Homo sapiens: one gene and its partners. The protein of the gene in region 2 purifies or fractionates together with the protein of the main gene of each other region. This does not show direct contact. Each region holds a gene or a part of one and is shown on either strand. Other genes may lie near its edges.

The links.
Region 1: the proteins of DMXL2 (region 2) and CD226 purify together in Homo sapiens (co-immunoprecipitation; one large-scale study listed by IntAct). This does not show direct contact.
Region 3: the proteins of DMXL2 (region 2) and PACC1 purify together in Homo sapiens (co-immunoprecipitation; one large-scale study listed by IntAct). This does not show direct contact.
Region 4: the proteins of DMXL2 (region 2) and ANKRD22 purify together in Homo sapiens (co-immunoprecipitation; one large-scale study listed by IntAct). This does not show direct contact.

Annotation. Positions count from the first base shown.
Region 1 is NC_000018.10:69,941,374-69,944,873, reverse strand, and holds part of CD226 (CD226 antigen isoform a precursor), read left to right. Parts: intron 1-3,500.
Region 2 is NC_000015.10:51,483,272-51,486,771, reverse strand, and holds part of DMXL2 (dmX-like protein 2), read left to right. Parts: intron 1-434; coding exon 435-699; intron 700-3,500. UniProt on the Homo sapiens protein: May serve as a scaffold protein for MADD and RAB3GA on synaptic vesicles. Plays a role in the brain as a key controller of neuronal and endocrine homeostatic processes.
Region 3 is NC_000001.11:212,408,387-212,411,886, reverse strand, and holds part of PACC1 (proton-activated chloride channel), read left to right. Parts: intron 1-1,365; coding exon 1,366-1,462; intron 1,463-3,500. UniProt on the Homo sapiens protein: Chloride channel gated by pH that facilitates the entry of chloride ions into cells upon exposure to extracellular acidic pH. Involved in acidosis-induced cell death by mediating chloride influx and subsequent cell swelling.
Region 4 is NC_000010.11:88,845,345-88,848,844, reverse strand, and holds part of ANKRD22 (ankyrin repeat domain-containing protein 22), read left to right. Parts: intron 1-3,500.

The sequences.
Region 1 (3,500 bases), on a different chromosome or scaffold from region 2:
AATTTACAATGTTTCTTTAGTTAAATGTTTATTTATTAAAGACTCTGTTTCACCATACAAGTCCTCATTTGCTGTTGTATGTAGACACCTGTTAAATCCTGCTTGGAAGTTTTTACTGTGTAGTTTGCTATAAATCAGTCAGGCAGGCGAAGTAGAAGATTGGCAAAGCTTTTAACATAGACTGAGCCATTGGAAACAAGGCCTGAGCCACCAAAGCTAGAACAGGATGCACTCCCCACTGCTGCCTTGTGTGGTATGCCTTTAAAGTTTGGGTTCCAAATTAGCTGTTTTGGTTTCTGTCACAGGACAACCAATTGAAAACAGCTCAACCTTTCAGGATAGAGGATGGAGCTAACCTGTAGAGAACTAAATGATGGTTGTTATGCAAAGGTAGGATTTTTAACATCACATATGAATAGTCTTCGGAATATTTCCTGTTGTTTTCATCCAGATTTGTCATTACTGCTAGTTTTTGAGGTTAGGAAAAGAGAGCTGTCACCTTCATGGGGCTTAAAAAAATACAATGTGGAGATTTTCAGTCAGTTTTCAGTCAGAGGAAGGAATACCGGCTGTCCGTCTAGTTTGAATTCTTCATGATGGTATCCTTAGCCATGATCCATTGCTCTTGTTTTGATTATTTGTATTTTAAAGAGCAGATTGATGCAATGGGCTAGTGAGGGCATTCTACCCTATTTTGAGAGTTTGAGAGCTTCACTTTTTTAAACTAAGAATGATAGTGAGTTTAAAAAATATTAGTTGTATTTCAAAATTAACCTTAGGTGTGCTTGAAATTTTCTTATGTACTTCAGTAACAACATACTGGGATTGCAAATATTGTACTTTTGTATACTGTAAAGGGGGAGTTGAAAATACATTAAATAGTAAAAAAAAAAAAAAAAAGACTTGGAATCTAGAAATCCTAGTTTGTATAATGGATTGTAAGAACTTCAGAAGGATGAAGGAGTTGGGCCCTATGCTCTGTAAATATGTTGATTTTTTGCTATTTATTGATAGCTTATTATGTGCGGAATTTTACATAGTCTGGATCTTCATAGACTTCCTCCTTGAATCTCCTGTGTGCACTTGAACGTTTGTATTGCCTGATTTTACAGATGATGACATTGAAGTGCAGTGAGGTCTAGTAGTCTTTCCAAGGCCCTAAGTTTCACGTATGTCCCAGCAGATAAAGTTGCAAATTGATGTAACTGTCAGCCTGGGGGACATGGGAACCCACCAGGGCCCTTGAAGAAGGAGACCTTGGCCTTTGTACCTCCTATCAATGCTACCCCTCTCCAGCTTTCAGCCTAGAGTTTAAGAGCAAACAGGACATCTTATTCTGAATAAATGGTACTACTAATACAAAGTTATTTGAAAATATGTGTTCTTTCCAGAACAGGCATTTCTTCATTAGCAATTGATTTAGAGACTCTGATGGTAAGAATAAATGCATTTGTTTTTACCTAGTTTGTGAGAAAATATGCAGAGATGACTTGGGGGACCACATTTTCCAGATAGCCCTTTCTAGCAGAGTTTGTGAGGTCATGGAGAAAACTACTGTCACCTACGTGTCTCTGGCTTTATTAGTCAGTTAAAGCAAATATAGTTGCATTTACAGAAATACCCCCAAAATGAGTGACCCACTCAGAATGCTCTGCCACCTAGTGTTTACTGGGTGCCTGCTCTGTAGGATGCAACTGCGTGTCATTTCATTTAATCCTTATGAAGCACTATGGGGAGGTAATATGTTCCCGTAATACAACAGAAGACACTGAGGTTCAGGGTGGTAGACTCACTTGTCCAAGGTTATCAAGCTGCCAAGTGGCAGCACCAGAATGACCCCAGTTGATTTTTCTGAAGAGCCAGAGATCTTAACTCCAGTGGAATGAACCAGGGAGGGCCATGGTAGAGAAAAGTCGTGCTGGACCTTGAAGAATTGGAAGGAATATTTTAATTAGAGAGGCCGGGGTCTGGGGAAGAGAGAAGACAGAGAGGGAAGGGTGTCCTGGGGGTACTGATGGCTTAAAGAAGGGCACAGTGGAGGTGTAAAGTTCATGTAAGAGGCAGAGCCTGGCCTTCTCTGACTAGGGCACTGGATTTGGATAAGATGTGGTTCTCACCCTGGGCTCTGAGGCCCCCTACACCCACAGAGGTGGCCTGAGAGGCAGCCTCCCAGGAAAGGAAGACACTGTGAGAGTGAGACTCTCTCCCTGCATGCACCAGCAAAGGGGCTCAGCTTATGATACTTTAGAGTTTCAGGAAAAGCTTTAGTACAGTAGATTCTGTGCTTGAAAAAGGAGTTGCAGCTCACTAGGGCAGCAGAATGTCAGAAATAAACCCGAAAAGTTATTGATGTGCCTAATGGAATTTTGACTTCTGTCTGTAATGCAGACCAGGGGACATCTCTGACTAGTTTTTAGAGAGACACACAAAATAAAACCAGATTTTTCTTTCACCACCTAAAAGATTACACTAGCTGCAGTCTTTTAGGAGAGTAAGAGTTTGCAGGCAAGGTAAGCAAATAGGCATCTGTAGATTGGAACCTTTACACACTGCTAGCAGGAGGATTAATTGGTATCTCTATTATTTTAGTCAGGCTTCTCCAGAGAAAGAGAACCAATGTGTATATACATGGAGATTTATTATAAGAAATTGGCTCACATGATGTATTAGTCTATTCTCACACTGCTGTGAAGAAATACTTAAGACTGGGTAATTTATAAGGGAAAGAGGTTTAATTGACTCACAGTTCAGTATGGCTGGGGAGGCCTCAGGAAACGTACAATCATGGTGAAAAGGGGAGCAAACATGTCCTTCTTCACATGGCAGCAGGAAGGAGAAGTGCAGAGTGAGGTGGGGGAAAAGCCCCTTATAAAACCATCAGATTTTGTGAGAATTCACTCACTGTCACCAGAACAGCATGAAGGTGACTGGCCCCATGATTCAGCTACCTCCCACCGGGTCCTTCCCACAATACATGGGGATTATGGGAACTACAAGATGAGATTTGGGTGGGGAAACAGCCAAATTATATCATTTTGCCCCTGGCCCCTCTGAAATCTCATGCCCTCACATTTCAAAATACAACCATACCCTCCCAACAGTCCCCCAAAGTCTTAACTCTTTCCAGCATTAACTGAAAGTCCACAGCCCAAAGTCTCATCTGAGACAAGGCAAGTACCTTCCGCCTATGAGCCTGTAAAATCAAAAGCAAGTTAGTTACTTCCTAGATAAAAGAGGGGTACAGGCATTGGATAAATACACCAATTCTAAATGAGAGAAATTGGCCAAAACAAAGGGGCTACTAGCTCCATGCAAGTCTGAAATCCTGTAGGGCAGTCATTAAAACTTCAAGTTCCAAAAATGATCTCCTTTGACTCCATGTCCCACATCCTGGGCATGCTGATGCAAGAGGTGGGCACCCATGGTCTTGGGCAGCTCCACCCCTCTGGCTATGCAGGGTACAGCCTCCCCTCTTGGCTGCTTTCACAGGCTGGTGTTGA
Region 2 (3,500 bases):
CTATGAATAGAACATATGGCTGTATTTCATAATTTATTTACTATTTAAATATGAGGCAGATAGTAATAATTATGATTATGCAGAAATATGTTTGGAAATTAAGAGGAAGTGGTATATAAATTCTAGTGTCATATATAGTATTTAATTTAAAAATGAATGTTATTTAAGTTGATCTTAAGTCTGAGATGATATTAATATACTTTGTTTCATGCTTATTTTATAAATGATCTGTCTAGTTTGGAAGCTACTGGGTTCCAACCTGTTACTCTTTTTGCTATTCTTTAATCTCCTATCAATCATTTAACTACCCTTCACTGTCCCTTCGCCCACCATTAGGATATAAATGGTAGATAATTTCAGGGTATTGATGGGATATTTCATCTCTCTAAATAATTATCATTAAGTAAGATAAGTATTAATATTTAAATTTGCAGGTATGTCTTGAAAAAATGGAAGATATTCAGCTAGCCATGGTTATTGCCCGTTTATATGAATCTGAATTTGAGACTTCATCCACTTATATATCCATCCTAAATCAGAAGATTTTGGGTTGCCAAAAGGATGGCTCAGGATTCAGTTGCAAAAGATTACATCCTGATCCTTTCCTGCGTAGTCTTGCCTATTGGGTAATGAAAGATTACACCCGAGCCTTGGACACATTACTGGAACAAACACCAAAGGAGGATGATGAACATCAAGGTAGGACGTTTTGTGGATTTCTTTTTTTTCTTTTTTAAAGGAAGAGATACTTTCTGAACTAATGTTCACTTAGATTAAGAAAAATCATTACCAGATTTGCTTTTCAACTTTGAGAATTTATTATTAAAATTTCTTGTGTGTCTAAAGGATTAGATAGGATTACCATCCTATTCTAATTACGTATATATTTAACAAGCATACAAAATGTTTGCCACATTCTGTAGCTCTTTTTACATAATCATATAGCCATTTTTTTTAAATGGAAATTTTGGCTGTTACACGTATTGGTTTGTCACATGGGCCTGGAAAAACTTTATGCCTCTGTGGTAAATTTTCTTTTTTCCTTGTTATCCTAAATAATTTAGATATTACAAGCACTTAAAGGATATTTATCAGCATTGTTTTCAATAATTTGAAAGGAATGGAACATTTTAAGTTTTTGTCAATAGAATAGTTAAATACGTTTTAATATATCCACATATAGAAACAGTGTGTCATTAAAAATTGAGGTAGATACATATGTTAATATGTGCTGTATTTTTAAGTGAAAAAAAGTAAGATGCACAGCAGTGTGGTTCTTGTTGCATTTGGCATATGTATGTTGTACAAACATGCACCTGAATGTGCACACATGTTATGTCTGCCTCCTCCATTTCCTTTGGTTGTTTCCTGAAACAAATCATAAGAAATGAAATACTGGTCATTGGTCACTGGCTACCTTTTGGGAATAAAAATGAGGAGATCCTTGTCTTTGACTTTTGACAACTTGACCATGTGCCTTGGAGAGGATCTTTTTAGGTTGAATCTATTTGGGAGTATTTGAACACCCTGGACCTAGATGCCTATCTCTTTCCCAAGACTTGGGAATTTTGGGCTGTTACTTTATTAAATGTGTTTTCCTCACCTTTTCCCTTTTCTTCTTCTTCTGGAATGCCCATAATATGAATATTTGTTTACTTAATAGTGTCCCATAAATCCTGTAGGCTTTCTTCATTCTTTTTTTTCTGTTCCTCCTTCTTCCTTTTTTTTTTTTTTTTTGGTTTGCCTGAGTTATTTCAAAAGACCTGTTTTCAAGTTCAGAAATTCTTTCTTCTGCTCGATCTAGTCTGTTGTTGAAGCTCTTGATTATATTTTTTATTTCATTCATTGAATTTTTTAGCTCTAGTATTTCTGTTTGGTTCTTTTGTATGATATCTATCTCCTTGGTGAATTTCAAATTCACATCATGTATTCTTTGCCTGATTTCATTTAGTTGTATATCTGTATTCTTTTGTATCTGAATGAGTTTCCTTAAGACTATGATTTCCTTAAGAATTATTTTTCTGGCATTTCATGTTTCCTTGTGACTAAGGTCTGTTACTGGAGAATTAGTATTTTCCTTTCCATTCTTTTCCTTTGGTGTCATATTTCCTTGCTTTCTCATGGTTGGTGTGTTTCTACATTGATTTCTATGTATCTGGCAGAAAAAGTTGCCTCTTCTAATTTTATGGAGTAGGTTTCATAGGGAAAGACTTGTTACTATGAATAGGTCCTGAGGTGTTGGTTTGGTGGAGTGCATTGGTTAGATGGATACAGTAGTGTAGTCTCCATGTAGCTTCTTCACCTGTAATCCACATTAGTGGCATTTGCAATCCTCTCAGTTGCCTAGGCTGAAAGAGTTTGCGGTGATGGCCATGTAGCTTTGCCAGGTGGGCTCGCTGGGCAGTTTTTCAGGTTGGGGTGCATATGTGCACACAATGGGTCAGCCAGCTTAGGGTCTGGTTGGCTGGGATTGGGGCCACAGGTCTGTTACTCTGGCCAGGAGTGTGGGTACATGGTCACTTGGCCAGCCTGGAGGTGTGCCTGCCAGAAGCAGCCCACAGGGCTCATATGTGGCCTCACGGCTACTCAGCTGGCCTGGGGTTTTGTCTGTTAGGGGTGGGGATAAGGCTATTTCTCAGGCCCATGACACGATTGCATGGCTGCTCAGCTGGCCTGGGGGTGTTTCTGCAGGTGTTGCCCATGGGTTATTTGTATACCTGTGATGCAGGTGCAGGGCTGCTCAGCTGGTCTGGTACTATGTTAGCTGGGGTGGCAGTGAGGCTGCTCCTCAGGCCTGAGGTGTGGGCATAAGGCTGCTCAGCTGGCATGGGGGCGTTTCTGTTAGGGGCTCATGGGGCTATTTCTCAGGTCTGAGACTGGTGCAAGGCTGTTCAGCTGGCTAAGGGGTGTGCACACTGGGAGCAGCCTGCAGGGCTGTTTGACCAGGCTGGGATGTGTCCACCAGGGATAGCCCACAGGGCCGTGGAAGTGGGCTCTTGGCTGCTTGGCTGGCCTGGTGGTGTGCTGCCAGGGGCGGCTCGAAGGACTATTTCTCAGGCGTTGATTGCAGGCGCAGGGCCTTTGGCAGGCCAGAACTCTGAGTGCAGGGAGCAGGGGCGCTGCACGCTGTTTCTGAGGTCCTGAGTGTGGGCATGTAGCTGCTTTGCTGGCCTGGGGGCATATCAGCTGCTCGTAGGCTTGGAGACCTCTCCCATTTGGGGGAGGGTATGTATGTAGTGGTTTGGCTGGCTCAAGGGCAGGTTCACCCTGGGCAAGACTGCCAGATTGTTTCTCTGACCAAAAGTGTGATGGTAGGGGTTGATTTCCCTGCCATGCAGGACCAAAGTCATAGCCAGTCATGGTCCTAGGCTCTGCATAGCTGGGATTGTAGCATTCAGCTACCCATGTAGGCTTGGAATGAAGACGGGTCCCCAGTGTTGGAGAGGTACAGTGACTCCTGGCCCCCAGAGCAGTGCGCATGCCAGAGGTGACTGGTCTCA
Region 3 (3,500 bases), on a different chromosome or scaffold from region 2:
TTACAGGCATGAGCCACCGTGTCAGGCCCCGCACCTGGCCTTTTCTTTTGTGCTTCGAGGGCTTTAAACTGGAGATTTTGCCTGATTCTAAGGGGCAGGAGTGGAGTCGTGGAGAGGGAGATAGAAGAATAGATTCGTAAGAGATGTTTTTCACTTGTCTCTTGGAGGTGAGTTTTTAATGAAAATGTCTAGAAACCTTAAAACCTTAAACACTGATGCTGTGAACCTGACAAAGTGCTTGGGAAAGCTGTCCCCTCTCCCTCCCAATTCAGGGATGGCTTCTCTTCTAAGCTCTGGTCTTGAGCTCTCTTGCCCTCCTCCTTAATCCTACAGAGACTTGTTGATTATCATGGTATCCTTTCCGTCCTTCTTCCCTTCTCAGTGGTATAATTTTCCCCATTTGACAGGTGAGACCACTGGTGAAGTGAGGTTGAGGTTGCTGGCTACCAGGCTGCTGATTATAATCAGCACCTATCCCTGTGGTGGACTGCCTGCCCTTCCTGCTGTGTTCTGCCATTTGCAGCCCAAGTCAGTGGACTTCAGCCAGAGTGCCAGAGAGAGCTCTGACACCACCTTCACTGTTCCCTCTTTTCTCTCAGCAGACTCTAAGCCGTATTTCCTCTTCCTTTGGGAAGTGGTTAAGACTATGGGCTTTGGAACTAGACCAACTTGGATTTTACTCCTGCCATATCTTTCCCTGGCTTTATGGCCATGGAAAATATTGTGGGTTGAATTGTGTTTCCTTAAAAAAGATATGTTGAAGTCCTAACCCCAGGTACCTCAGATTGTGACCTTGTTTGGAAATGGGGTCATTGCAGGTGTAATTAGTGAAGATGAGGTCATACAGGAGTAGGGTGGGCCCCTAATCCAACATGGCTGGTGTCCTTCAAGACGATGACCATGTGAAGACACAGAGAGAGCACACCTTGTAAAGATGGCAGCGGAGAGTGGAGATTGGATGCCTCTACGAGCCAACGAACTCCAAGGATTGCTGGCTGTCACCAGAAGCCAGGAGAGAGGCATGGAACAGATTTCCTCACCACTCGTAGAAGAAGGAGCCAACCCTGCCAACACCTCAATTTCAGACTTCTAGCCTCCAGAACTGTGAGAGAAGACATTTCCGTTGTTTTAAGCTGTTCGGTTTGTGGTACTTGCTACAGTAGTCCTAGGAACACAGAGAGCAGAAAGTTTATTGAGCTTTCTGAGCTTCGGTGTCCTCATCTGTAAAATTGCTGTAACACACTCTATGTCATGTGGTTTTTGGTGACAATTAAGTGACAAGCAGCTTCTGCTTTCTTATTCTAGTGTAGAAAAGCAAGGCTGACATAGCTGACTTGTCTTTGCTCTCTTTGCTTCTCCCTTTAGCTGAGTGAGGAGTTGGTCCAGGTGGTTGAGAACTCAGAGCTGGCAGACGAGCAGGACAAGGAGACGGTCAGAGTCCAAGGTCCGGGTATCTTACCAGGTGAGTGCGTTTGGTGCTTTGCTGTGCTGTTGCTGCAGCTGGACACCCCAGTCTAGGCGCCTTGCCAACTGTGGGAGAGGAGGAGCCCCCTTCCCTGCACCCTGGTGTCAGGTCTCAAGTATTGCCCTAGTTTTAAAGCCATACATATTTAACCAGCCTTGGAACAGAGGATATGTCTAGGCTGGTATCTGCTCTTAACTCCAATTTGAGCCACTTCCTGAGGTCAGGTCATTGCATACAATGGCAAATGCTTTGGATCTCTGCTCTTCTGTTCCTCTTTCCCTGGAAACTGCTAGCAGGTGAGCCTCTAATATCCGGGTCAAAGAAGATCTAATAGGCCCCCTCTTTCAGATACTAGGCCTGTCCAGTAATGCTGCTCAGTTGGGTAAGCAGGGTCCCATCAGTCAGTTGGCATCTTATGGAGCCCTACGGCAATGTTTGACACTGCTGACTACTTCTTCCGCCCGGATACACGCTGCTCCCTTAGCTTCTGTGATGCAGCATTTCTCAGGCCACTCCTTCCAGGCTCCATTGCGGTCACTCTCCAGCTCTTGGGCATGAAATGTTGGTTGCAGGCCCCTTTCTCTCACTCTCATAGACAGTTCTACCCAGGCCTGCTCCCTTGCTTCAGCCACTGCTTGCTCACACGTGACTCCCATGTTTACATCTCTAGCCCAGAGGTTACCTACAAACCGCAAATTTATATATCCTGTATTTCCAACTGCCCATGTCATAGTTCTGCTTGGATCTCCCAAAGCTTCCCTCAACTCCACATGTCCAAAATTGACCTCATGATCATCTCAGTCCCAGCTTGGTCCTCTCCCAGTATTTCCTGTTTGCAGGAATGGTACTACCACTTAACGCAGTTGAACTTCAGAGTAGTTCTCCATTCCTTCCTTCCTCTCATCCCCTTTTTCTCTGGCCCTCAGCCATGCTGATCTTTTTTTATTTTAGGCCTCATTCCCTCTCACCACAGGGCCTTTTTGTTGTTTTATTTCTCTGCCTGGAATTCACTTTCCTTCTTCACATAGTTAATGCCTAATCATTCTTCAGCTTTCAGCTCACTCATTTTTTTCCACAGAGCCTTCTCTAACCTTCTGGCCAGATTACCTCCCACCCTCCAGCACCGTCTCATAGTCCACGCGCCTCTCCTTTCCGGCTATTGCTGTTGGAATGGTGCGTTTGTTTGTCTGACTAATGTCTGTCTGTTCTACTACAGCAGTCCCCAACTTTTTGGCACCAGGGACCGGTTTGTGGAAGACAATTTTTCCACAGATGGAGGTTGGGGGATGGTTTCAAGATGAAACTGTTCCACCTCAGATTATCAGACATAGTTAGATTTTCATAAGGAGCACACAACCTAGATCCCTTGTATGTGCAGCTTACAATAGGATTTGCACTCCTATGAGAATCTAATGCTGCAGCTGATCTGACAGGAGGTGGAGCTCAGGTGGTAATGCTCACTCACTGCTCACCTCCTACTGTATTGGCCCAGTTCCTAACAGGCCATGGACCCGTATTGGTCTGTGGCCTGGGGGTTGGGGACCCCTGTTCTACTAGAATGAAACTCCCTGAGGGCAGAGACCAGTCTGTTTTGCTCACCAGCCTAGCCTTGACCACGCCATAAAGATTTGTTGAGTGAATGAATGAAGCCCCAGCCTGACTTCAACTTCTTGGATGGATCCCATCTGTTTGTGGGAGAGGGGAACAAGACAGGAACTAATGTGGTTCTGCCTGCTCCTTACAGAAGACTGCATGGAAGGGACCGGGCACGGTGGCTCATGCCTGTAATGCCAGCACTTTGGGAGGCTGAGGCAGGTGGATCACCTGAGGTCAGGAGTTCAAGACCAGCCTGGCCAACATGGTGAAACCCTGTCTCTACTAAAAAATACAAAAATTAGCCAGGTGTGGTGGCACATGCCTGTAATCTCAGCTACTTGGGAGGCTGAGGCAGGAGAATCGCTTGAACCCAGGAGGCGGAGGTTACAGTGAGACGAGATCATGCCACTGCACTCTAGCCTGGGTGACAAGAGTGAGA
Region 4 (3,500 bases), on a different chromosome or scaffold from region 2:
TATTGGAAAAGCTGGTACAGTTGAGGAGGAGAAGTCAGGGAATACAGGAATAGAGATGTGACTAATTGAATGGCCATTGGACTGAAAGTCAAGCAATCCTATATTTTAGACCTGATTGTGCCAGGAACTTCAAGGGATTTGAGAGGAAGTCATTTAACCTCTCTGAGTCACAGTTTTAATATTACAAAACAAGAGAGCTGAATGAGATCTGGTTTCACATTTAACATCGTGTCATTCTGTGATATGAGAAAGGCTAGGCAGAGACAATGGGGAAAAAATTGCATTCTCACAATCTTCCCAGCTCTCTCCATCTACCTTGTTTATGTATGAACTCCTAGCAAGATTTTGGTATTCAACAACATATGCAAGAAGAGCATCAGGCGTTTTCATCCCAACTGGTTTTCTAATTCTTTCCTTGTATATTGAAAGTAATTTTACAAATTAAAATGTTGTGCTAAGTCACAAAAGTTCAGAGAGAAAATGATAACTTTCACATATGAAAAGACACCAGGATTGAAAATGTGTATACCTTTATTTATTTATTCATTCACCCATCCATTTGTTTAATCAACCATATTTATTGAGTACATACTATGTTTCAGGCATCTTCTAGTTCCTGGTGTATATATGTATATATATATGTATATATACATATATACATATATATATACACATATATACATATATATATATACACGCATATATGTTGGGCATCCCTAATCTGAAAATTTGAGTGGAAGTGCTCCAAAACTCCAAATTTTTGAGCACAAACATGAAACAAGTAGAAAATTTCCTACTTGACCTCATGTGATGGGTCACAGTCAAAATGCAGGTACACAATGCACAGTTTACTCAGAATTAACAAGAGAAAAAAGAATTTCCCAGCCCCTTTCGGCTGTGATATATCTTTTTCTTGAACACCCAGTTTTTCCCATGAAAGCAAGTCCACAAAGGGTAAAAAATGGCACCTGTGCAGGATGAATGAGCCTATAGCAGATTTGCCACTCTGCCTCCATGGGGCCAAGATTTGTGTGTATTTCTCTGTGTGTGTCTTTTTTTGTTTTTTGGGGTTTTTTTTTATTTTGTTTTTGTTTTGCTTTTTCTCTACTCTGTGATGTAAATATACTGTTGAAAATATCAAAAAGGTCTGCAGATACTTATGGGTAACAGTGATAAGAAAAAAAAAGGAAGCATTTATGTATACTTATAACACAGAAAGTCAAGCTTTTGGATAAATTGGACAGTGGTATAGGTATAAAATGTCTGATAGAAGAGTATGGTGTTGAGGCCAGGCGCAGTGGCTCATGCCTGTAATTCCAGCACTTTGGGAAGCTGAGGCAGGTGGATCACCTGAGGTTGGGAGTTTGAGACCAGCCTGGCCAACAAGGTGAAACCCTGTCTCTACTAAAAACAGAAAAATTAGCTGGGTGTGGAGGCATGTGCCTGTAATCCCAGCTACTTGGGAGGCTGAGGCAGGAAAATTGCTTGAACCTGGGAGGCAGAGGTTGTAGTGAGCTGAGATCACATCACTGCACTCCAGCCTGGGCAACAGAGTGAGTCTCCATCTCAAAAAAGTAACAATAAAAAAAGAGTATGGTGTTGAAATGACCACCATATATGACTCAAAGAAATAGAAGGATAAACTGTTTAAGTCCTATGCTGAAGTTAATGAAAAATGTAAAAAAACATTCCACAAAGCTACAAATGAAGATCCCAATTGTGTATTGAGAAAGTGGATCCATCAGTATCACAAAGAACACATGCCACTTAATGGTATGCTGATCATGAAACAGGAAAAGATCTATCACGATGAACTGAAAATTTAAAAGAACTGCGAATATGCGTAGTTCTTTGGCATAAATTTAAGAAAAAACATGGCATTAAATTTTCAAATATTTGTAGTGACGAAACATCTGCTGATCAGAAAGCAGCAGAGAAATTTATTGATGAGTTTGCCAAGATCATCACTGATAAAAATTCTCACACTAGATCAAGTCTATAGTGCTGATGAAACATCACTGTTTTGGCATTATTGCTTCAGAAAGACACTGACTTCAGCCGATGAGACAGGCCTTGTGGGCAATCAGGATACCAAGGACAGGATAATTGCGCTGGGATGTGCTAATGCAGCAGGCACACACAAATGTAAACCTGCTGTAATAGGCAAAAGCTTGAATTCTCACTATTTTCAAAGAGTAAATTTCTTACTAGTCCATTATCATGCTAACAAAAGGCATGGGTCACCAGGGACATCTTTTGTGATTGTTTTCACAACATTTTGTAGCAATGGCTCATGCTCACTGCAGGGAAGCTGGACTGGATGAAGGCTGCAAGATTTTGTTATTCCTTGACAACTTTTATGCTTATTCTTCAGCTAAAATTCTCATCAAAAGTAATACTTATTCCATGTGCTTTTCCCCAAATGTGACTTTATTAATTTAGCCATGTGAGAATGGTGTCCTTAGATCAATCAGTGTAAATATAAAACATTTTCGTAAACAGTATGTTATCAGCAGTGAACATAGGTGTGGGTGTTTCGCATAAAGGATGTTGTATATGCTGTTGCCAATGCTTGTAATGCAGTAACTAAAGACAGTTGTGCATACCTGGCATAACCTCTGTCCTGCAACTATGTTCAGTAAGTATTATAAATAAAGTGACTTTGAATGATTCTGTATGTCAAATGAGAAAAAAAAAAGATGTCTGACCATACATACGCAAAAAAAAGTACCTTCAGAGTCCACCAGTAAGTTGGAAGAAGTTGATATTGAAGAAATTTTTAACACTGATAATGAGGCTCCAGTTGTTCATTTATTAACCAATGGTGAAATAGCTGAAATGGTTCTGAATCAAGATGATTGTGATAATAGCAATAATGACGATGGTGGTTAACACTGTAAAGACTTTGTCAGGGGCCAGATCAGGCAGGTCTTGTAGGCCAAGGTGAAAAATTTAGATTTTATGCAAAACACAATGGAAAGCGGGTAAAGGATCTTAAGAGAGGAATAATATGACCATTAGGGTTTAAAAAGGCCACTCTGGTAGCATGGGAGAATAAATTTGAGAGATGCCAGAGGGAAAGCTGGATCTTGGAAGGAAGCTGTTACAGTAGTTTATGGAGTGATAATGATGGTTGCATTAGACTAATGGGTGAATTTTAGATAAATTTTTAACTAAAAGATTTCCTGGTTTGTAGGTTGGCAGTGAAGGAAAGTAAGAAATTAAAGTTGATACTCAGTATTCTGCCTTAGGCCAGCCAGTGGATGGTGGTGCTGATGAGATGGGAACACTCAGAGAGGGGCAGAAGGAAAGACACATTTCAGGGTTCTATTTGGACATGGTACTTTAGCGATATCCATGAGACATCTAGGTGGGGATGGAAGATGAATACAGGAAATGTACCTTTAAGGAGAGGCTCGGGCAAGAGATAATAATTTAGGAGTTGTCTGCATATACATGGTATTTAACGCCAAGAGAAGGGATGAGTTTAGACATGGAAA